Linked DNA regions of Homo sapiens: all the other regions are linked to region 3. The links come from fine-mapping of genetic effects on gene expression. A gene starts in region 3. Each other region holds a variant in brackets. All regions are shown on one strand. Distances are between the middles of the regions.

What was found. PIP is the estimated chance that this variant, and not a neighbour inherited with it, causes the effect. A credible set is the group of variants that fine-mapping cannot tell apart.
Region 1: its variant is the best candidate, but not a certain one, in a credible set for the expression of CCNG1 in whole blood (INTERVAL, PIP 0.89).
Region 2: its variant is the best candidate, but not a certain one, in a credible set for the expression of CCNG1 in spinal cord (GTEx, PIP 0.55).

The regions. Positions count from the first base shown.
Region 1 is chr5:163,222,753-163,230,942 of GRCh38, forward strand. All of the region lies in intron 2 of LOC105377700 (a long non-coding RNA gene), which reads right to left. Among named protein-coding and RNA genes, the nearest start is that of CCNG1, 210 kb to the right of the region's middle. The variant A/G (reference allele first, on the strand shown) is at 4,637.
Region 2 is chr5:163,376,136-163,384,325 of GRCh38, forward strand. The region is part of intron 1 of LOC105377700 (a long non-coding RNA gene); the gene reads right to left. Among named protein-coding and RNA genes, the nearest start is that of CCNG1, 57 kb to the right of the region's middle. The variant G/T (reference allele first, on the strand shown) is at 3,684.
Region 3 is chr5:163,432,975-163,441,164 of GRCh38, forward strand. It overlaps CCNG1 (cyclin G1), which reads left to right and starts at 4,621. Exons shown (of 7, transcript NM_004060.4): 1 at 4,621-4,830; 2 at 6,283-6,546; 3 at 8,104-8,190. The coding sequence starts at 6,283. It also overlaps a transcript of LOC105377700 not described here. RefSeq lists enhancers at 4,226-4,275, 4,717-5,294, 4,986-5,185 and a silencer at 4,466-4,545.

The sequences.
Region 1 (8,190 bases), 210 kb before region 3:
TACCTAATAACCAAAAATAATCATAAAAAACAGTTTCTAAGGGCAGAAAAATTAAATATGCACACTATGTATTTTCCCTTCAGTCATAATCAAGAGACTGATAAACTGTGAAGTTTTTGAAATCATTCTTTTCCCACATCAAGTGCTACAAAAATCCTTTTCCCACAATCACAATAACACTTTACCTTTGTTTTTATTAAGACGAGTAAGTCTTTTTCTTCTTTCTGAAGACTGGCTAACACTGAAGAAAATATGTTTTTCTTATACCCTACATGCATTCAAAGAAAATTATATTTTTTAAAATTTATTGATACTGGTGTAACAACCACAAAACTTAAAATGTTATTATAGTAGGCACTGGGGTGTCTAGAATGCTTGGAAACTACAACCTAATTGGCAGGGTTGTAGATCATAGAGTGTCAATAAGAGCAAAGGTTCCCTGAAAATCACAGAGTGTCAATGAGAAAACGGTTCCCAAACATCAAAAAGCTAGTGAAAACTGTCTCCTCATTAGTAACTTCAGTTGCTTATGGGATATGGGTTGTTATGGAAACTGCAGTAAGAATGAGAAAAAAATTGGGAGACAGAAAAATATTGTCATAATGGGCAGGAGCTCATCTATAAACTCTTTTTTTTTTTTTTTTTTTTTTGAGACAGAGTCTGTCTCTGTTGCCCAGGCTGGAGTGCAGTGGCGGGATCCCAGCTCACTGCAACCTCCATCTCCTGGGTTCAAGCGATTCTCCTTCCTCAGTCCCCCAAGTAGCTATATTACAGGCGCGAGCCACCACAGTCCAACTAATTTTTGTATTTTTAGTAGAGACAGGGTTTCACCATATTAGACAGGCTTGGCTTGAACTTTGGACCTCAAGCAATCTGTCCACTGCGCCTCCCAAAGTACTGAGATTATTACAGGTGTGAGCCACCGCACCTGGGCTTCTATAAACTCTTCATAAAACCTTTCTTCTTTGAGTTATCAGGTGCCAGTTTGATCTCATGTTATCATCAAATTCAAAATGTCTTTCAAGGTTGTAGGAGTGAGTCCGATCTCTAGCTTTACCTTTGTCTCTCCAGAATTCTTAAGAGCCTGAGTTACAGGGTATTGGGGCAAGTTTTATGGTATTAGTAACAGATTGATCTTATTTAACAAGTTTAGGGGATTACAAAGATCTTGCTGTACATGCTAGTACATACATCCCATGTCTCATAAGCCTCTTAATTCTCTACCCAAGGGTGTCTTTTACTATTATAATGAGCATAATAAGTCAGCCCAAAGACACTAATCATGGGTTTCTGCAGTTGCATGAATTTGGGGATTTTCCCTTCTGCTCTTTTACCTCCTTGCTGCAAAGTGTTCAACCATGAGCCCAGAATGCAGTTCATACACTGCAGAGTGGATTGTTATCTCCATTTATTTGGCAGGTTTGCTCCCCTTTAAGAGACACTATGACCACCTTATCTAACCTACTTCAAGAGGAGGCATCTCTCACAGAAACTTTGTATCTCTCAATAAGCGTGTCTCCTCTCATTAAAGGTAAAGAAGTGCAAGCCTCTGTGTTCACTGAGTGTTCATCTAAATTACATCTAGTCTGCATTTTCATGACATCAAAAATGACTTACTTGTTTTTCACTACAGCATATTACCTCCTGGTGTTTTCACCAGGTGTTTTTAGATGTCACTGTTACTGTTACTATCATTTTTGAGTGGCTGTTTTTCAAATCATGAAGGTAGTTGTAAGATAACTACCTTATAAGCCATAGGCATTTGCATTTATTTCAATCTTTTTGGCTACCTAGGAAAAACAATACTTTAGTCCAAAGAGCTTTGAAGTCGATAGACTTAAATAGAAATCTAGACGTTGTCACTAACCAGCTATGAACGAACATTGGGCAATTTCCTTAACCTGAGCCTTTACCCTGAGACTGTTAAGTACAAAATCTTTGACAAAAATTCTGGAAGAAAAAAAAAACTCCATAGATTATAAATAAAATTAAGGCCAAGTATTAAAAAAAAGAAAATTCTGGAAGAACATAGCATGGTTGTGGCCCCAGGACATTTCTTAGAAATCGTACATTTTGAGTAGTGGGAAGATGAAAGTAAAAATAAGCCTTTTTAACAGATTTGCCACTGAAATTATCAATAGTCAGGTACTTTGTAGAACAAGTTTATTACTATGTGGACTTGTTACTTGAGTGACATTCAGGTATCAAAAAGTCACAGAAATGTTATCTCATGGGCACTAAGAGTCATTTTTCATGTGTGTCTGTTTTTAAAGTTTAAACAATTAACAGTACTCAAGTGACAGAGACTCATGAAAGATGACAGTCTATCAGCACTTCTCAACAAGGATTCCAGGAGAGCATTAAGCCCTGATGGCCCAAGACATCCATCATATTTAATGAATTAACCTATCTCCTGTGTATATAGAATATTACTAGCATACCATCCTCGGGAAAACTGAGAAAAGAATAGCCTGATCATGGCTTAATTTCCTCACAGAACACCAGTAAATGAAAGCTGATAGCTACGGGGTTGAAGGACCTAGGATTTAGTCACATTTTCCTGACAAGGCCTGTAAATGCTCTACTCTCTGTCTCAAGGATCATCTTGTTGCCTATGATAGATAATAAACAAGGTCATACATATCTCACTAGTCAATTTTGGGTTTTTACCCAACATTTTATTCTTTAAAAGATTTAGACTAACAGAGTTATTTAGTGTTTCCAGTTGTGTGTTTTATTTAGCAAGTGAGTAAAAATACTGGAATATTGAAGTATTTGCATAAAAAAGGAAACGGTATTGTTTTGTAATCTCTGTTTTATTTCCTACTAAAGTTTTATATGTAAAAAAAAGCCTATGGAGTGTGAATTAGAGACAGACTAGGACAAGGCTATAAAGATACCACAGAATCGTCACAGCTCTAGAGTCAGACACCTACTAGCTATGAAACTTGGGACAACAATTTAATTTTCTGAGTTTTAGTTTACGTGTAAAATGAGTATAAGTAATAACTTCTTCATAAGGCTGATGAAAGGATTAAATGCAAAAAACCTGGTTAAGTGTTTAAATTCAAAAGAAACTCATTAAACAACAGTACATATGATTTATTCTTACTATTACATCTAATTCTCAAAGTCTTCCAGAAGAAAGAACTATCCTGCTTTAAATGCAGCATACCTACCCATCAGAGCCCCAGTGAGTAGGATACCTAGAAGACAGGAATTGGCTTGGAAACGGAGAAAGTAATTGGGAATATCTTTTGGCTTTTCAGTAAGTCAGAGAGTCAAATAATTCAAAGATTTAAAAGGATTAAGAGTCACTGCTCTTATCATCCCTTGCTGGAAAAATAATGTGATTTACTAATACATGAATTTCTAAAATAATGATTCAAATCTAAGTAGAAAAACTGGAGTATATGGGTTTCCAGAGAATGAAGAATTGGATGTTCAAGAAAATTTCATTGGTAATTAGGGAAATGCAAATAAAGTAACAATAAAATATGATTTTTTACACATCGGTCAGTAAAAAGTAAAAATAAGTAATAAATGTCTATATTTGACAAGGGTATGGAGACCAAAACTGTGGAAGTAGAAATTGGTGCAGCCTTTTTAGAGGGTAATTTGGCATCTATTCTATATGTGCATGTCTTTTTACTCAGAATTCCACTTCTATGAATCTACGCTACAGGATTCTGACCTGTTCAAAGATAAACATTCTAAAATATTATTATTTCTTTTTGTAATTAAAATGAAACAAAAATTTTACCAATAGGAAAATATGTATATTAATCATGATTATGCTATGCTACAGATGCAATGCAACCATTTTACATCACAAAACAATTTCTATATGCTGGTTTGGATAGTCATCCCAGATATATCACTAATTGAAAAAGAAAAGAAAAAAATAAAGCAAGTTCCAAAACAATCTTCAGAGTATGATATTATTTATTTATATACATATATGTATATATAGCATTGGGAATCATGTGTGTGCACATGTGTGTACAAATGCACCCTATCCACATGAATGATTTACACACCCTATCCACATGAATGATTTAAATATGTTAAATAGTAGAATGTAAAAATTATTAACTCCCCTTTTATGACCTTCTCTCAATCCCTTCCCTTCTCCAAAGAGAATCACTATCATCTGTCTGGCATATATCTTGCTCTTTCTCTCTCTCCCTCTGTCTCTGTGTGTGTGTGTGTGTGTGTGTGTGTGTGTGTGTGTGCGCGCATGGCATTCCCAATGCTATATCTATAGCATATATATATGCTATATTATAATATATAATATGTATATGCTATACATAAATTGCTTCCACTAAACTGAGAACTCCTTGAGGCCAGAGGCTATAAGTATTTTAATATTCTCTCAATACCAGGCAACTCACACTGATTTAAACACTGATAGTATTAAGTCTGTTTGTTCATGATTTAAATTTGTTTAATTTAAATTGAGGACATTCATGTTGTATATATAAATATTATATATATATGCTAGATTCCCAATGCTATTAGTAATTTTTACACTCTACTATTCCACATATTTAAATTTCCCATCAAACACACATTACTGTTGTGAACAAGTATTTTAAATCACCAAACATGGTGGCCGTTGCCCGTCATCTCA[A/G]CATTTTAGGAGGCTGAGGCGGGAGGATTGCTTGAGACCAGGAGTTCAAGACCAGCCTGGGTAACATAGAGAGACTCCATCTGTACAAAAAAATAAAATTTTATCCAGGCAGGTTGGTGCATGCCTGTAGCTACTGGGGAGGCTGAGGCAGGAGGAACGCTATAGCCTGGGAAGCCAACGCTGCAGCAAGCCATGATTACACCACTGCACTCCAGCCTGGGCAATAAAGAGAGATTTTATCTGTCTCCAAAAAAACAAAAAGAAGTATTTTAAATAACTGCTAAGGAATTTAATATCTGTCTTTCTCATCTGGTCCAGGAACAGCCCTGGAAGTTTGATCTAATAATCAAAACTTCTTCTTCTAGATTAATCCTCTACTATAAATTAATCAGGTAGCAAAAATAGAGCTAAAGCAAAAAACAATAGATATGTTAGGAGAGTTATAAAAACTACAAAATGAATGTCCTTAATTTAAATTCAACACATTTAAATCGTGAACAAACAGACTTAATACTAGCAGTGTGTAAATCAGTGTGAGTTGCCTGGCATTGAGAGAATATTGAAATACGGATAGCCTCTAGCCTCAAGGAGTTCTCAGTTTAGTGGAAGAAATTTCTGTATAGGCAGACATTTTCAATATCCTGACATAAATTCAGTGCTTAAGGGTACTCTCAAAAGTTTTAAAAACAATAAGAAGGAGTCCCAGAAAGGAAGTCTGGATAATGTTTGCTCCTAGACTCTAAGGATTAATCTCTTTAAGAACTAAGGCTCTTATCCATCTGACTGCAAATAAGCCAAATTGAAATAAATAAACAAATAGGCAATGACTCCTTAATAACTGTCCTATATATTTCAATTTATTGTTTTCCTTAAGAAGTTAAAAAATTAGGTATCTATGCAAATACCATATTATGTTTTAGCTATGAACAAATTAGAAGATTTAGGATTGCATCATTTATTTATTTATTGCTGGATACCCACCAACAATAGCCACAGACAATTACTTAGTCATGTATAATATACAGAGTACCTATGTGTACATCATTTCATTTTATCTTTACAACTTTCGTGTTAGGCAGGAAGAATTTTCCCCGTTGTACACATTAGGAAATAGAGATTCAGAGATATTAAAATAGACTGTTCTTAGCCAGTGCAATTATGCCATAAATGGGGCATTTTTCTCTATCCTGAAGAAGATTCTAGATTTGCAAATACCATATTTAACAATTAGGCAAAATATAACAAAGTGTTCCTGTTTTCTCCACTATTAACTGCAGGACCTTTTTAGACCATGCTGATATGATTACAGTAATTATCATGGTAACAAGAATGGAACATATTGTAAGATAAGGGAAAATATCGACCTAAACTTTCCTTAGAACTCCTAGAAGTGCTCAAAATGGCACCTTACACTTTTCAGATCAGAGTTCTCTTCATGTAATTGCTTTCTCCATCCAAAGCACTTTTAGTAATTTAATTTTTCACGTCCATGACTTAGTTCAGTAAGATACTGCCTCAGCAACGAGACTTTCAGGAAATTCGGCACAAATAGCTTATTTTTAAAAAGGAACTTATTGAAATCATACAACTGAAACTCCAAGAATATGTTTGCTTCAGGTATGTCTTGATCCAGGAGTTTAATAATGACATAAAGACGAAGACTCCCTTCATCTACTGGTTCCACTCTCCCAGAGTGCAAAATGGTTACCAGCAGTTCCAGACCACAGGCTTGCATGTTCAAATCCAGAAGGCAAAGTCCACATATCTTTTTCCTTAGCTGCTCACATAAGTTTTGTTGTGCCTTATTGGCTCTTATTGAGTGACATATTTATTTCTGAACTTTGGAAGAGTTCAGGAAAAAAGTGATACTTTGAATGGTTAGGCCTAAATCTCAAGTCAATCTTTTGAGCTGGGAATAAGTCAATGTCATGCAAAGCACACAAAATAAGGGAAAAAGGAGTGGATCCCAGAGGAAAATTAGTATACCCTTACCAGAGAAAGCTTAATAAATTCTGGATCACTAAAACAAGTCATTTATGACAATTTCTTATAGATCTGATATTAATACTCCAAGTACAATTTTATATTGACTGAAGGCTGATAATTTGTTTTGTGGCATAAAATTAAATAAGGGTAAGGAAAGGTGCTATTGATTAAGTTTCCTGGAGAACAGACTCTGAAATGGAAATTTGCAGGCATGAAGTTCATTAGGAAGTGATTTCAGTATCAACATTTGTAACAGAGTGAAAGAAGAATAAGTGAGCAGTGGGAAAAGTTGAACTCTGAAAAAGTTGGCCGCAGCCAATCCCTTGGAGATCTCTGAAACTAGCCTACTCTTCTAATAGTCTAGTCTTCTACATTGCCCTGAATTGAGGCAAGGGGAACAGGCCCTTACATTCTTGCTTTGTAATTGGATGTAGGTTACTCCTGAAGAGCAAATGTAAACTTGGGTGAGGCAAAGGCCTCCTGCCGAGGGCATTCTGTGGGAGGGTCTCAGCTGTGCCCTCTCAGCAGTTAACGCTTCCAGAAGCTGGTGGAATGAGTGCCTTGATACTGATGTGAGTGTTCTGGGCAGCACTCCACCACATTCTTGGGTCTACCCCTTGTTCCACCCATATCCATCAGTAGTAATTAAGTCCACCTCATCTGGGAATACTTCCTCCAGGATTTGGTCATTCTCTTCCTGGGGACACACACAAGTGAAAGGTTAGTGAGATAAATGACAATCCCTCCACCACTGCAGCTCTTCTCAGTGTCTCAACTGATATTCATCATCTCTTTCCTCTGTTACTAATTCTAGATTTCCCCCACACTCAGCACCTCTGCCAGTCTAAGCCCCAGGATGTAAGCCCCTGCCTACCACAGCTTTTTTATACTACAGTTACTGCACTTGTCGATTGATGATCACAAGTGGGTGGAGGTGTACCAAGAAACACCTAGTGGATCCTCTGGTGTTCACTGGAGGACAACAGTCCTACCCTCTTCTGATGATGAGGGTCAATTTTCACTACTACGTGCCTCCTTTACTTGCCTTCTGACTTCTTGGCACAAAGATTCTAATGTGTTTAAAACCTCAGCCATAAAATTTAATAGGATCCTTTCTGCGTCTCCTGGTGAAAGCACTCTCCCTCTGGGAGTCATAATCTCTAGACCCATACAGCCCAAAGTTGTAGGGATAAGAAAGACAAATTCTGTAATGGAATCATTGAAAGTGATGCGAAACTGGTCAATTCCTTCTACCACTTCTTTGGTTCCCAGACTTATGTAGTCTGGAATATTTATTAGGGATACAGCACATTATAATGGTTATTGATTAAGAACATATAGAATGTTCTGTGCCCTTACTAAGCTGCTCATTTATCACTCTGTCACTCTGGCAGGCCAGTATTTTCTGGATGGTGTGGTACAAGATAGAACAGTGGATATCATAGCTATGTGCTCAAAGTTACACTGTTTGCTGTAAAGTGGATTCCTTTGTCTGATGATGCATTATGTTAAATTCATATCCATGGACCAGATACTTCTAACCCCTTGGAGAGTGGAGCTAGCCTCAG
Region 2 (8,190 bases), 57 kb before region 3:
TTCCAATGTAGTCAAACAAATCACTCCTTAAGAGTAATGTTTCTATACCCTTTCTTTGATAATTTTACTTAATTCAATTGCTAAAATACCACTGGCATAATTTTATTCTTAAACTATTTTTATAATGCACAGCTATTGTTAGTATCTGGTGTTGTCCTTTTTTACTTAAGCTGATTATAAAACTAGAAGTCACTGTTTTTTAACATGGGAGGAAATATAACTTGCACTCACTAAAGTAATTAAATATTTGTATTGGGACATGGCAGATGTAATTAACCTCAACTCGAAATAGATTTAAACCTAAAATATTTGTGTAATGACTAATTACCTTAAAAAATAAAATTGCAATTATCTGACTCCATTACTCAATATGAGTACTTTTCCCGCTTAATTGCAAATAATGAACTAACCTGTCAATAATTGTACATAATAAAAGATGTCAGATCTGGAAGAGAGTAGAATTTGATACTGAAGTTTTTAACTTTTTAGAAGTATCTCTGTTTTCTTGCTCCAACTTAGGAAGAACATAATCACATTCGGATTTAGAATTTTGAGAAAGTTTAGGCAATTGCCTTTTGTTTAAGCCTTTTCAAGGTAAAACTATTTATTGTGTTGAAGAAATTAGAGGTCTGATGAATTTGAAACAAAGCATTGCTTTTGAATTCCTTCATGAATTTCATATCAGCATATAAAATTCCTACTAGATAATCCTGCATTTAAATGTGTAAACTTTCCTTGAAATAAACTTCCCAATACAAGCTATCATTATCGCTTTCAAAAGACCTTTGGGACACAGCTTGAAATTTTTGTATACTTTAATTGCTCAACCAAAAAAATATATACTTCAACCTCCAGCAGGCCACCACATTGCCTATCTTCAAGCAACATCATGGCATTCGGCACCTAGAAATGATGTTCCTAGGGCTGTGCTGCATGGGGGTGTGCAGTGCCCCTCACTTCAAGCAAACGCATGCTCCATTTAATCAAAATGTTCTACCAAGAGGCAACACTCAACAGATATTTGTTAATTCACTAGTAGTGCCTATAGCAGTAGGTTATTTGAATATTAGTGGAATATTAGAAGACTTAGATGCCAGAATTTCTTAATAATAAAAAGTATGAAGTGAGTAGATATTTGACAATCTTTGAATTCATTTCTTAGGGAAAGATTACCAAACAAGATTTGTAATTCAAATCCACAGTGTGATAGTAGGCATTGATCGCACAAATACAATAAACACCAAAATTCTGTTTTGCTCTTGGAGACCTAATTAATAACCACTTCAATGCCTAGCACAAAAGAAAGCTTTCTGCAAGTGCCTTCCTCTTAACGAAATATCGTCATAGACATCTTAATCTTTTCTTTCTCCTTTTACAATAATTTGGTATTATTATCAATATTGTTATTTTTTATGATGATTATACATTGGATTTGGAGACATCCAATAGCTTGACCAGGTCAGCAAGTGGTAGCCCCAAAACTGATATCCATGCCTTCTAATTCCAAGACTTGAGCACGTTCTATCCCAAACCTCAAATTCCATTTGAGTCATTCTTTAATTCTATAACCTGATTTCTAGTCACTTGAAAGTAAGAGCACAATGAAAAGAGAACTAGGTTACTTAAAACAATTGTGATAAAGAAAACTGCCAAAAATAAAGATATGCAAGTCTTTTTTCCCACCTACTGATTTGAAATTCTATAAAACAAAGGGCATGAAACAAGGAACCTACAGGTTGGCCTTTCTCATTAACAAACTTTTTCCCCTTCAGTAACTGGCAACAGTTTGTGGAGAAATAGAATAGTAGAACTGGAGGCATTCTTTAGAGTTGAAACTGATTCCAAAAACCTGAGTTCTCACCTCTGGGTCCCTCTTAAACTCCTCTACCCTTCACCTTCTCAGATCTCCTCCTGGGCCGAGATTCCCATGCCACAGCCTTCCCTAAGGAGGGGCTGTAGCACGTGATAGCTCAGAGACACCGCGGGCAGAAAGAAGGCACAGGGCTGTGGCCAGATGTGCCAGCAGGTTGGTGTTTAGGAAAAGAGGAGGCTAAGGGAAAGCACTGTTTTCCCAGGGAGCAGGCGCCAGCCCGGCTTCCTAGATTCCTCTTCCCTAAGTCCCTCCTGGCAACCCTTCAGTTTAGCACCCTCTTTATTCTCAGATCCTCCCACTCTCTAGATTTCATCCCTTCCATCCCTGGGCCCAAACTCTTTTTCAAAAGAAGTGCCAGAAAGCCCAGCTCTGTCTGCCTCTCCCCCGTTCCTACAAACTCTTTCCCTCTATTTTCCTGAACCCCCAGCCTGAGAACCGCATCCTCTGCCCTGGCCTCTCCACAGGCTGCACCTTATTCTCTCCTGGCCATTGCCTTCACCACTGACATGCATTCCTCATATACTTACCTCAGTTAAAAGGAAAGAGAGAGAGAGCCTTTTAAAAAAATATTAGAAATATTAGAATAATATTCTAATATTCTCTATATATAATTTCTATATATATTTCTATATATATTTATATATATATTTCTATACGTATATAATATTCTATATATATAATTTATTTCTAATAAAAAATATTAGAAATAAACAAATATTATGCCACATCTATAATAATGGGATATGACCAAAAAATGAAAGCTATGCACATAACTGAAGTCAGGAAACATTGAACTAACCTGTCTTCTTTGGAAATGAGAAAACTTAAAATCTAGTGATGCTACAGGAATTGCTCAAAGTCACAAAAGGGATTAGTACCAGAGGCTGAGCTATCCTTAGCATTTTTGCAGTGTGTCTCTGAAAGCAGAGATGCATTCAGAATAGCTGTGTTTATTCAACACAAAAAGACATAGCATGCCTATTATAAAGAGGCCCAGTTTCCCACTCATTTGGACACACTTTAATGTCCTTTGTTTAAAGACTTCCTAGCTTCTTCTATTCCCCCATTTTCAATCACAGCTTCAAACTGTAGAAAAGCTATTTGTTAAAATTTGGGGAAAGACCCCAGGGACACAGGCAGGTGAACAACACATACTGGGGCCTGTCACGGGGTACAATGGGAGGGAGAGCATCAGGAAAAATAGCTAATGCATGCTGGGCTTAATACCTAGGTGATCGGTTGATAGGTGCAGCAAACCTCTGTGGCACACGTTTACCTATGTAACAAACTTGCACGTCATGTGTATGTACCCCAGAGTTTAAAATAAAATAAAATTAAATTTAAAAAAAGGATTTGGGGAAAGAAATGTGGCTAGCAAAATATTACCTTCAGTAGGCCCTATTAGTATCTTTTGAATTTATTGGTATAAACACACACAACACACATACACAACAGCACCCACACACAACACACACACACACGACTCAGAGAGTTACCTCATTGATAGATTTAAGTAAGAAAAGAAAACTGCATCTTTTTTCTTGTGGTGAGAAAGAACTGAAATGGGGACTAAATCATAATGGGGCTCTTCAAAAATGCTGAACAACAATATTTGAAATTTTTATGCAGACCTCCAAATGCTGCAATCATCCCACTGTAAAAACTTAGTCAATTTTTTTTTCTAAGAAAGAAAGTAAAGATAATAAAGACCTGTTACCCAATTCTGAGCAGAAGCTGAGTCACTGTGTAAACACACTTCAACTACCGGCCTGCTTTCTCAAGGGTGAATCAATTGCTTTGAACAATGAAT[G/T]TACTGAGTTCTTTCCAATTTTATCCTGCAGAATAGTACCACTCATCATTGTTCTGTGAAAGCATGAATATAAAGAGTCAATATCTTCTGGGTTTGTTGGCTATCTTCTGTTTTGGAATTTGAATTTGTCCAGCAGGCCTACAAAAATGAGCAACAAAAAGAAAAGGAGAGTTCACATGGTGCCATGAAGGCACAAACGACAAGAGACTCGGAGACCTGGACTCCTTCTGTGGCCAAAACCACATAAAATCCCAAAGGCCGTGGAAAAAGAAAATTTACCAAATTATTCACACACACAAAAAAGCAATGAACTGACCGGGCATGGTGGCTCATGCCTATAATCCCAGCACTTTGGGAGGCCGAGGCAGGGGGATCACCTGAGGTCAGGAGTTCGAGACCAGCCTGGCCAACATGGTGAAACCCCTTCCCTACTAAAAATACAAAAATTCGCTGGGCATGGTGGCACGTGCCTATAATCTCAGCTACTCGGGAGGCTGAGGCAGGAGGATCACTTGAACCCGGGAGGCAAGGATTGAAGTGAGCCAAGACCACGCCATTGCTCTCCAGCCTTGGTGACAGAGCAAGACCCCATCCATCAGGACATAGGCATGGGCAAGGACTTCATGTCTAAAACACCAAAAGCAATGGCAACCAAAGCCAAAATTGACAAATGGGATCTAATTAAACTAAAGAGCTTCTGCACAGCAAAAGAAACTACCATCAGAATAAACAGGCAACCTACAGAATGGGAGAAAATTTTGGCAATCTACTCATCTGACAAAGGGCTAATATCCAGAATCTACAATGAACTCAAACAAATTTACAAGAAAAAAACAAACAACCCCATCAACAAGTGGGTGAAGGATATGAACAGACACTTCTCAAAAGAAGACATTTATGCACCCAAAAGACACATGAAAAAATGCTCATCATCACTGGCCATCAGAGAAATACGAATCAAAACCACAATGAGATAACATCTCACACCAGTTAGAATGGCAATCATTAAAAAGTCAGGAAACAACAGGTGCTGGAGAGGATGTGGAGAAACAGGAACACTTTTACACTGTTGGTGGGACTGTAAACTAGTTCAACCATTGTGGAAGTCAGTGTGGCAATTCCTCAGGGATCTAGAACTAGAAATACCATTTGATCCAGCAATCCCATTACTGTGTATATACCCAAAGGATTATAAATCATGCTGCTATAAAGACACATGCACATGTATGTTTATTGAGGCACTATTCACAATAGCAAAGACTTGGAACCAACCCAAATGTCCAACAATGATAGACTGGATTAAGAAAATGTGGCACATATATACCATGGAATACTATGCAGCCATAAAAAATGATGAGTTCATGTCCTTTGTAGGGACGTGGATGAAGCTGGAAACCATCATTCCAGTTTGCAATAGTAAACTATCTCAAGGACAAAAAACCAAACACCGCATGTTCTCACTCATAGGTGGGAATTGAACAATGAGAACACATGGACACAGGAAGGGGAACATCACACACTGGGGCCTGTTGTGTGGTGGGGGGAGTGGGAAGCGATAGCATTAGGAGATATACCTAATGTTAAATGACGAGTTACTGGGTGCAGCACACCAACATGGCACATGTATACATATGTAACTAACCTGCACGTTGTGCACATGTACCCTAAAACTTAAAGTATAATTAAAAAAATGCAATGAACTAATTTCACAGCCTTTCTTTTTCAACAAAACTCTGCTTTCAGGAAAAAACTAGAGCACTACTGTTCCACTGTCCCCTCAATCACTTAGTAACCAGCCTTAGGCAACTCATTTAAGCTTTATCAACTGCATCTTCCCCCCATGCACCTGTAAAATAAGATTGTGCTACTGATACCTACTGTTCATATGAGAATTAGATGAGATAATACATCTAAAGCATTTAGCAATATGCCTGGCATGAAGTAAGATCTCAAAAAATGACATCTATTATTTTGAGTATATGACAATGACATGTTGCTGAAAGATAGCTTGAAAATTAAATCAGCTTACATGTGGTGAGACATAAAGGGAAAGGTAAAAAGGGTTTTTTTTTTTAACAACAACAAAAAAAAAACAGGGAACAACATTCCCCTTTCTTTAGGATTTTGCTGAAGAATGATTCCAGGTTTAGAAATAGTCCGTCGCTAAGGCCAAAGGGTGTTTTCTTAACTATTCTCATAAAACTCAATCATTCCTCATACTCATGAACCCTTTATTGACCTAAGTAGACTACGGTTACCTTTGGCAAATAAATATTCTGGAGGCCCAATTAAATTTGAATTTCAGGTAAACAATGATTTTTAGTACAAGTACAGTATTCCATTAAATAGCTGAAACATATCTTTACTAAAAAATTATTAGTTATATGTCTGAAATGCAAATAAAATTGGGAATCTTGTATTTTATCTGAGAATCCCAATGAACACCTGGACTCCAAAAACCAGGAAAATCTAGATGGTGCACCCACAGCAACCCTCAAAGACCACAAGCGTGAGCCTGGGGGCTGATGAGAATACTTTTTTAAATTAGAATATCACATATACGTTCACTGGCTTGAGTGAGTTTTTTTCCTTGCAATCAAAAGGCTTGACTGCCAAAACACGTGTCTGTTTCAGCTTTTCTGTCTTAAAAGATGGAGGCGTAATACTCACCAGGCTCTTGTAAAGAGAAAATAGAAACTAAATATGAAAGTACTTTATAAACTAGGTTTTGGGGACTTCCGGGTAAAAATACTAGATTGAACACATGCTCCCTCCAGAAACCTTGCTAAAATAACAGGATAGAAATTGTTTAAGGCATGAACCCAAAAGGAAAGAGAACAAAACCCAAAAGGACAGAGAGGATACACCAGCAACAGCAACCCTCCCAAGGAGCAAGGCAGGTGAGTGAAGCTGTCTTGGACCTTCTAGATCAGACCAGCTAAATACCATTGAGTGACCATCAAACAACAGGCGAAGAGGAGCAAGCCCCCAGCTAAGTTCTATTCAAACCTTTAACCAAGAAGATGATGAGATAATAAAATAGTACTTGTCTTAACCCATTAATTTTGGGTGAATTATTACACAACACTGGAACACACAATAGAAGGCAGAATGGAATAGATGTCATTAAGACACAGGGCTATATAGGACACAGGTGGAGACCCATTGTTAACTAAACAAATTAGAGAAGAGTTCACAAAGATAGTGGTATCTCAGCTGGTCTTAAAGGATAAACAGGCTGGGCGTGGTGGCTCACGCCTATAATCCCAACACTTTCGGAGGCCAAGGCGGGAGGATCACTTGAGGTCAGGAGTTCGGGACCAGCCTGATCAATATAGTGAAACCCCATCTCTACTAAAAAATACAAAAATTAGCCGGGTGTGGTGGTGGGCACCTGTAGTCCCAGCTACTCAGGAGGCTAAGACAGGAGAATTGCTTGAACCCAGGAGGCAAAGGTTGCAGTGAGCCGAGATCGCACCACTGCACTCCAGCCTGGGCAATAAGAGCAAAACTCCGTCTCAAAAAAAAAAAAAAAGAAGAAGAAGAAAAGAAAAGTGAAAGTTTCGCCAGGTGCAGTGGCTCACGCCTGTAATTCCAGTACTTTGGGAGGCCGAATTGGGCAGATCACCCTAGGTCAGGAGTTCAAGACAAGCTTGGCCAACATGGCGAAATCCCGTCTCTACTGAAAATACAGAAATTAGCTAGATGCAGTGGCATGTGCCTGTAGTCCCAGCTACTTGGGAGGCTGAGGCTGGAGAATCACTTGAACCCGGGAGGTGGAGGTTGCAGTGAGCTGAGATCACACCACTGCACTCCAGCCTGGGCGACAAGAGTGAGACTCCATCTAAAAACAGAAAGAAAGAAAAGAAAAGAAAGGAAGGAAGGAGGGAAGGAAGGAAGGGAGGGAGGGAGGGAGGGAGGGAGGAAGGATGGACAGAAAGGAGGGAGGGAGGGAGGAGAGGGAGAAGGAAGGAAGGAAGGAAGGAAGGAAGGAAGGGAGGAAGGAAGGAAGGAAGGAAGGAAGAAAGTTTCTTTCCCCCAATCCCTCCTTATTAGTATGTAAAATCCCAGGGAAAGCCTCTGACTGGCTAACTTGTCCATGTCCCCTCCCTTAGACCAATCATTGTTACCAGCTGATAGGGTAATATTATTGGCCAGTGCCCAAAAACTGAGTTAATATAATCTACAGTCCCAACAGAATCACTAGTTATGAAGGAATGACAGTTCCTACTAACGATAAAGGAACAGTGCTGTAAATCAGAATCAGGATGAAAATATTATAGGGCCGATTAAAAATAAAACCAAACAGGCCAGGCGCAGTGACTCATGCCTGTAATCTCAACACTTTGGGAAGCCAGGGCAGGAAGACTGCTTGAGGCCAGAAGTTTACGACCAGCCTGTTCAAGATAGCAAGACCCCTCTCTACAAAAAATTAAAAATTAGCCGGGCATGGTGGTGCACACCTGTAGTCCTAGCTACTTGGGTGGCTGAGGTGGGAGGATCACTT
Region 3 (8,190 bases):
TTTTGCTTTGTTTTGTTTGATTTGAAGACAAACTGTAATGTGGAATACATTACCCTAACTTGGGTGTTTTTCCTCCACACTCACCCACCAACCCTTGGAATGCCAAGGGAGGGCTCCTCACTGCCCTCTACCAGCCATAGAACCTGAAAGCCACGAAGAGGCTCTGACCCTACCAACAGTACAGGCAGTGAAAAACAACCTTGGGATGTACTAATTATTAGAAAACTGAGGTTTGGGGAGAGAAAAGAGAAAAGGGTTGGCAAAATCAGAGAGGGGGATAAAAGAGTTAAAAGGCTAGAAAGATAAGGAAGGTAGTAACGTGAAACAAGGAAGGCCTTAAGTCCAATTCTCAACTCCGCCAAAACGTTTTGTGTACATGGGGTGTGTGTGTGTGTGTGTGTGTGTGTGTGTGTGTTTGGGTGTGTGTGTGTGTTTGCTTTTGGGGGAGGAAGGTTAGCAACCTAGGCAGAAACCTGGATAAGAAAGGAAATTGTTCTTGCCTTCCCATTCCTTCTCCTTCCAAAGCAGGAGACAACAGAGACACCTGCAGTGTTGGCTTCTGACTGGAGGACAATGACCCAGCTGATCCTTCTGACGTCTTACGTTCACAGAGAACAGCAGCCAACACATCCTGTGGCTCAAAAGCTGTAGCAGCATTTTTTATCTGGGATTACAAAATACAATGGTCTGGCACTTACAAAGTTCTCAAGAAATACTTGTTGATAGACAAACAAAGTAAACAGTCAACATGGGCAAAATGTTGATTATTGAAGCTGGGTAATGAGACTTAAATGTTCTGAAATAGAAACTTTTTAAAAAACTGCAGAAAAATCCAAATTCAAGTTTTGTGTGAAGTATATTTAGTAAATAGTAAACAGTTACTAAACATGAGATATATAAAATATCCCACATTTCTGAAGAGAATAAAAATATCAGAGTTGTCAAAGGCAGGTGTGTTTAAGTTCAGCACGATGACCTGGCACATGGGAAACATATAATAAATGCAAACCCTATATAGTACGTTTTTGGCTGGTCTTGGCTTTAAGCTTTGTACTCAACAGAGTCTAAAGCCATTAGAGAACAGAGGATCCCCCTCTAATGTGACCCAGTGCCTTTATATAGCAGTGGTTACTTGATGAGTCAAAAATTTAGTTTTTCATGAAATATATAGTAAAACCTCAATTAATTGGAAGGGGTTACTTTATCTGAGTATAGAAGTGGTAGCTAGAACCTCTGAGTAGAAGGATATTCATGGAATTGTTAATCTATGTTTTTTATGTATCCTTCTCTGTCTTTCTCCTCCCAACCATACTTAATTTCACTGGTGTCCCATAAACTAATAAAGAATTAAAGGAGCCACTGACAAGCAAGTTAACTTCAAATGAATAAGATAGACTAGATGCACTAGAGAACAGCTAGAGAAGTGGAGGAGGCTGTAATGCACAGTTACAGGAAGGATCAGAAAGCAGAAGGGAACTCAGCTGAGATCTTTTTGACCCTCACTTCCTTGGCCCTTATCATAGTTGGACAAGGCTACACACAAAAGTACCAGACATTTATTAGGGAGCCTGAAAAGAGGGTAAGGTGATTGGACATTGTGTGCAGGAGGGAAGGCACAGACTCCCACATCTCCAAGATGGAAACAAACAAAGCCAACCGGGAATTTCCCTGTGAGTCAGGGCAGTATTTGACACACCACCACTGTTTTATACCTGCTTGTTATAATCTTTGTTGTTGAAAGGCATGTCTACAGCCTACCATGCGGAGAATATGATTACATCTTCCCGTTACTGCCTGGATTCTTGCCCAGCCTCAAGGCCATTATTCTGACCATTAGTTCTTGTTGTACTTAACTGTTAATGGAGAAGAAGGTATGAGGATAGGAATTGAATACATCATTGAGCCTAGAATATACCCCCAGAAGTCAGTCATTTAACAAATTTTCAATAGGAATTCATGATTAAATCCACACTTCTTTAAAAATAAAATCATAGTTAACGAAGGGCTCATTATCTTTATTTTACAAGAGTGGATAACTGAGTATTACATTTCCACATTTTGCTAATTAGGTCTTTTCAATTATTTAAATGATGGTCTATATTCTAACATTTTGAAATGAAAATGGCAGAGGGGGTTAAGGGAGGAAGAAAAGTAAAGAATTTCAATTTGACTTGATTTATATTTAATTAATGTCTCTCCAGTACTAGTGAAATATTTTTATGTGAGAGATTTTAATAAAAAGTAAAAATATTCTAATGTACGAGAAAATACTGTATTATATAAACAATGATATATTACCTAAAAGCCCTCAAGTGAAAATTTCAAGTATAAAAACGTATAGAAATTAATACATGCAATTTAGATATTTTTATCTGTGTTAAATAAACAGTTCTAATACTCTGATTATCCTTCTAGGCTGAAAACAGAAGACTAGTCTGATAACAGAGAAAACACATCAAAGTGTGTTTAAGCAAGATATTTAAAAAGAAATAGTAATTTAATACTAAGGGCTACCATTTATCAAGAAATCTACTGTGATCTGGGAATAGTGACTACCTCTTTATGCACTTTCTATTATTTAATCCTCTTCATAACCCCATGAATAATGTATTTTTTACTTCTCATTGTTGAGAAAAGAAAATGTGATTAAATAACTTGCTGAAAGTCACATAACAAGTTATGAGCTATTCCTGGATATGAATATAAGTTTATTTTATTCTAAAGTCTATGTGTTTATATTGCCCACAGGTTACATGTTCTACAAGGACGGGTACCAGTCTAATTTGTTCTCCACTGGCCTATGCTATGTGTTCAATAAATATTAGTTAATTTATTCGTGCTTTTGATTGCTATAAAGAATTTTTTTTTTTTTAGACCAAGTCTTGCTCTGTTGCCCAGGCTGGAGTGCAGTGGCACCATCTCGGCTCACTGCAACCTCTACCTCCCAGGTTCAAGCGATTCTCCTGCCTCAGCCTCCCGAGTAGCTGGGATTACAGGCACGTGCCACCATGCCCAGCTAATTTTTGTATTTTCAGTAGAGACGGGGTTTCACCATGTTGGCCAGGTTGGTCTCAAACTCCTGACCTCAGGTAATCCACCCGCCTCTGCCTCCCAAAGTGCTGGGATTATAGGTGTGGGCCACCGCGCCCAGCCTGCCATAAAGATTTTATGATTTTTTAGCCATTTTTTTTAAAAATTGTGCATATACATTCCTAATTTTAGGAATTAGGAATAATAGGAACTAAAAGCCAAAAGGAGAAACTACATTTATAAACTCACACATTACAGCAAAAAGTATTTTTAAATAAAATCACTTGTTAAAGGTTATAAATTGCCAATTTATATTCACTAGGTAAGCTTTTATTTTCAAAAGGAACAAAGGCCTCTTCCCCATTTGAGCCCCAGTTTCTTAAACTGACCTGATTATGTGGCTAAGGTATTATTGTGAGGTATTGATGTTTTCTCCTGTTTTTCCTTCCCCTTCCTCCCCACCCCTTTTCCCCCTTTCCAGAGTTTTGTTCTGTGGCATTGCCTTGGGTAAGTACACGGCAGGGCAAATAGCAGAGTGACGGCAAATCTTTCAGATTTTCACTTTTTCAAAGTAAGAGAGACCGAACTGGGGCCATGAGAACAGAGACATCCAACTACTGTGTAATTCATAAGAGTTTAGAAATGACTCCTTGTGCACCCTTTTTCAGGCCCTTTTACAAATGGACTTTTCTCACTTGTGATGATCTGGGAGAGTGAGAGTGAGGAGAGTCTAAGAAGAGTTCAGGCTAATTATTTTCCCACTAATCTGGCATAGGAGAGGCTCACAGAGATTAAATTCATTATGGTAAATACAAAGAGTAATACTGCTTTACACTCGGGTCTGTAGACTGAGATTCACACTCACCACAATTATTCCTGTTAACAGTCTGCCACATACCTTTCATTTTAAGCAACTGAAAAATTGTACCAACTTTTCTCTTTAAATTTGCTTTAAAAGCAAATTCAGAAAATTGGTAGAGGGTCAAGAAATTACACAGTCCAACTCCATTATTTGATAAATTGTATAAAAAGCAAACTAAGGCAAGAATCAACTGACTTCCAAAGTTCACGAAGAGAGCACTCTGGAAGTTGATAAACCACCAAACCATATAAATTCCACCACCTCTTTATCTGTAATTAAAAATCAAAGGTTGACTTTTTTTTTTTTAACTACTCACTGTATTTTTAGAAAGATGGGGCAGAACCACTGTAGAACTCCTAAACCCCACAGAACAAACAGTACATTCTGGAATGATACGCCGGCCAATCCGGCTGGCAGCCGATTGACCTGACCCAGGCGAGGGTTGCTGCACCGAGTATTTAGTTTGGCCCCCTACTGAATGAAGACACTTTGTTAAATTCTCCAATGAGAGACGCTTAGAGGTAGGGGCGTGGAAGGGGGCCGGGGAATTTGAGGCCAGATAACGGGAAGTGTGAGCCGATTGGCCGGACTTCTCACTCCACGGCCCAGCCGTTTACGGATCGCGGAGGCCATCCATCAAAAGAATTACACCAATCAGCGGCGAAAATGCCCCCTTCTCGCGAGAAAGCCCCGCCCTCCAATATATTCCTCGTTAGGGCAGGCGCGGCCCCTTCGGCTCCGAGCTGACCCTGATCAGGGCCGAGTTGTCTCGGCGGCGCTGCCGAGGCCTCCACCCAGGACAGTCCCCCTCCCCGGGCCTCTCTCCTCTTGCCTACGAGTCCCCTCTCCTCGTAGGCCTCTCGGATCTGATATCGTGGGGTGAGGTGAGCAGGCCCGGGGAGGGTGGTTACCGCTGAGGAGCTGCAGTCTCTGTCAAGGTGAGTGGGACTGCGCGGGAGTTGACCGCCAGGTGCGGGTGGGGAGCTGGGTTGGGGGCGCGGGGCGAGGAGTAGGTCTGGCCCGCGCCCTTTTCCACACTAAACTCTACCGCTGTTGTGAGCACAAGCCCAGGCTAGTCCGAGGCTGGAGGGGCGGAGCCGGATCCGGCCTCCTGAGGTGCCTTTCGTGTCTGCCGACCCAGTCCCAGGGACTAGCCTGGGGAGGAAGAATGGAACCCCTGCAGTTAGAGGTTCCTCACATGACTAGCTCTGAAGACCTCCTGCCTTCCTGTCTTTAGTTGGTGTGGGAGGGACCTTCCATGTATCCAGGGCTTAGCTTGTGCCCGGGACATGGTTGTGTTATGCACACTTAAATCAATGGAATTCCCAGGTTCATCTTTCAGACTAGGTTAGCAACAACCCACCGCACCCCCCCGCCCCAATACGTGCTCCTAATGTCACCTTTTAAGTTTCCTTTCCTAACAACAATAAAAGTTAAGTAATATTGAGTATTGTGTGCCAAGCACTGTGCTATACTCTTTAAGTGGTGAATCATCTTGTTCAGTCTTCACATTCAGCGACAGATATTGTTACCCTCATTTTATAAATCTAGAAAGAAGCTCAAGCTCATTATTATTGTTCAGTGTTTTTTAAGCGTCTACTGTATGTGCTAAGCTCTTTACGTGATTTCATTTTAACTCACAAATCTGTGAGGTAGGTCATAAACCTTATCCCTACTTTATCAATGTGGAACTAAGTACAATTAAGTAACTTGAACAGTTCATTTTGTTAATATGTGGCAGAATACTTAACTACCATCTGCTTTTCACTTTCGGTATCCTGTCTTACGGTGTTTATTCGTGGTTATCTATTGACAGTGAATAACTTGAACAAGTATTTCTTGAAGATTTGCATTTTATTTTTCTAAAAAGCATGGTTCCGACCGGGCGCGGTGGCTCACGCCTGTAATCCCGGCACTTTGGAAGGCCGAGGCGGGCAGATCACAAGGCCAGGAGACCGAGACCATCCTGGCCAACATGGTGAAACCCCGTCTCTACTAAAAATATAAAAATTAGCTGGGCGCGGTGGCGCATGCCTGTAATCCCAGCTCCTCGGGAGGCTGAGGCAGGAGAATCGCTTGAACCAGGGAGTCGGAGGTTGCAGTGAGCCAAGATCGTGCCACTGTACTCCAGCCTGGCAACAGAGCGAGACTCCTTCTCAAAAAAAAAAAAAAAAAGCATGGTTCCTTCCCTCTAGGAACTCAATTTAGGATGTGACCAACTTGTAGAAGGGAAATAAATAACAGATGGCACTTTGCAATGACTTAGATGCACTAGCCGCATTGGGGGATGGGAGGCTTATAAATCATTTCTTGGCCCAGTGCAAAGATGGCCAAGGAAAGCAGGAAGGACTACTCTTACACTCCTTGCTGGTCTTTTTTTCTATATATAGATGATAGAGGTACTGACAACAACTGACTCTCAGAAACTGCTACACCAGCTGAATGCCCTGTTGGAACAGGAGTCTAGATGTCAGCCAAAGGTCTGTGGTTTGAGACTAATTGAGTCTGCACACGATAATGGCCTCAGAATGACTGCAAGACTAAGGGACTTTGAAGTAAAAGATCTTCTTAGTCTAACTCAGTTCTTTGGCTTTGACACAGAGACATTTTCTCTAGCTGTGAATTTACTGGACAGATTCCTGTCTAAAATGAAGGTATGTTTGAAGCTACATTTTTGTAATTTTGCTCAGTGTGTTTTGGAGATGGAATTGTTACCTTTTGGCTGGTATTCATAAACTTGACCTTTTTTTTTTCAGCACGTAGCCAAAACATTAATTTTGTCTACTACAGCATTAATATTTCTTATCATAATCAAGAGTAGTACATCAGGTATTAGACTTAAATTCTGAAATGAAAAATAGTCTAATATCAAGTAACAAATTGCAGTTTCCTAGTAAGAAAATTGGCTGTTTTTAAAAAACCCTTCTTGATAGGTTGGATTTGTCCATTTATTTACTATTTTTAGATATAAACAAATTTATTAGTGGCAGAAATTTATTAGAGGCTACATTGTGGCTAAGAATTAAGATATATTTGTTAATCACTACCCATATATAAAATTGTAAATGTTTTAGCCTTAGACCTAGTCAAGACTTGCTTATGCTTGGCATTTCCAGCTTCAGTGTACATGCAGTAGGGAGGAGAGTGTGTCTGAAGGAGGAGCAACTATTTTCCTATACTAGATAAACAAGACTGTCACTTTCAGAGCTTAACTGTTACAAATGCATCTGCCTTTCCTGTACACCCATGGTCACTGGAGGAAAATAAGATGATGTGACAATTGGAAGGAAACTCATATTTTAGTCCTCGGTATCTAACACAGTGCATCATAAAAAAGGACTTCAATATTTGTTGAAGATTCAAGAAATTTGCTTCAACAGACTAATTAAGCTCTTTAGACATTTCACATGTAGTCATTACCTTTGAATCTGTAAATGTTGCACAAATGAATAATATACAGCTATTCCTCAGGTATAATTCAGTCTTATGTGAGAATAAGATCGTTGCTCTTATGTACAAGTCATAATAAGAAAAATAACTACATTATGCCTTTAAAGAGGCATAAGTGTACTGCTGAAGAGTTTACAAGAAGAGAGAGAGCACAGAGATATTAATACTGGTAAAAGCTTAGTTTCATGTGAGCTGGAAGTAAACTGGATAAAGTTTTGACTGTGTCTCATACGGCAGACATTCAGAAAATTAAATGATAAAGATTAGTAGTGGATAGAACTCTTAGAGGCAGAGTAAACAGTATATGCCATAGTATTTTAAAACTGTTTTATATGTGTTCCCACAAAGACAAGAGCCTGGAAAAAATACAACATCCTGCAAAGAAATGGCTTATTTTGTAAATAAGCCATAAAGTATTTCAGTCCTCATATATCTTTGACTAGTTAACTTATTTGATCAAACTAGAACAATGTTTACTTATAGTTCTACAGTGATTAATAAAAACACACTTTTTCTATGCTGAGCCAAACATTATACTGAAACTCAGTCCAGTTACTCAAAAATTGGTTCTAAGTGGGGTCCATAGTGTTGACAGGCTATAGTTTAGGTATGAGTGGATTGTGTTAAGTCCATCACAGCTGAGAAATAAACCTCAAATATACATTTTCAAAATGTTGGGTCGGAGTTCTAGATTATCCTTTATGTTTTAATTGAAATAAGGTAGAGTCATGGGCTTACTGGTTTTGTTTTTGATTTTTTAGGTACAGCCCAAGCACCTTGGGTGTGTTGGACTGAGCTGCTTTTATTTGGCTGTAAAATCAATAGAAGAGGAAAGGAATGTCCCATTG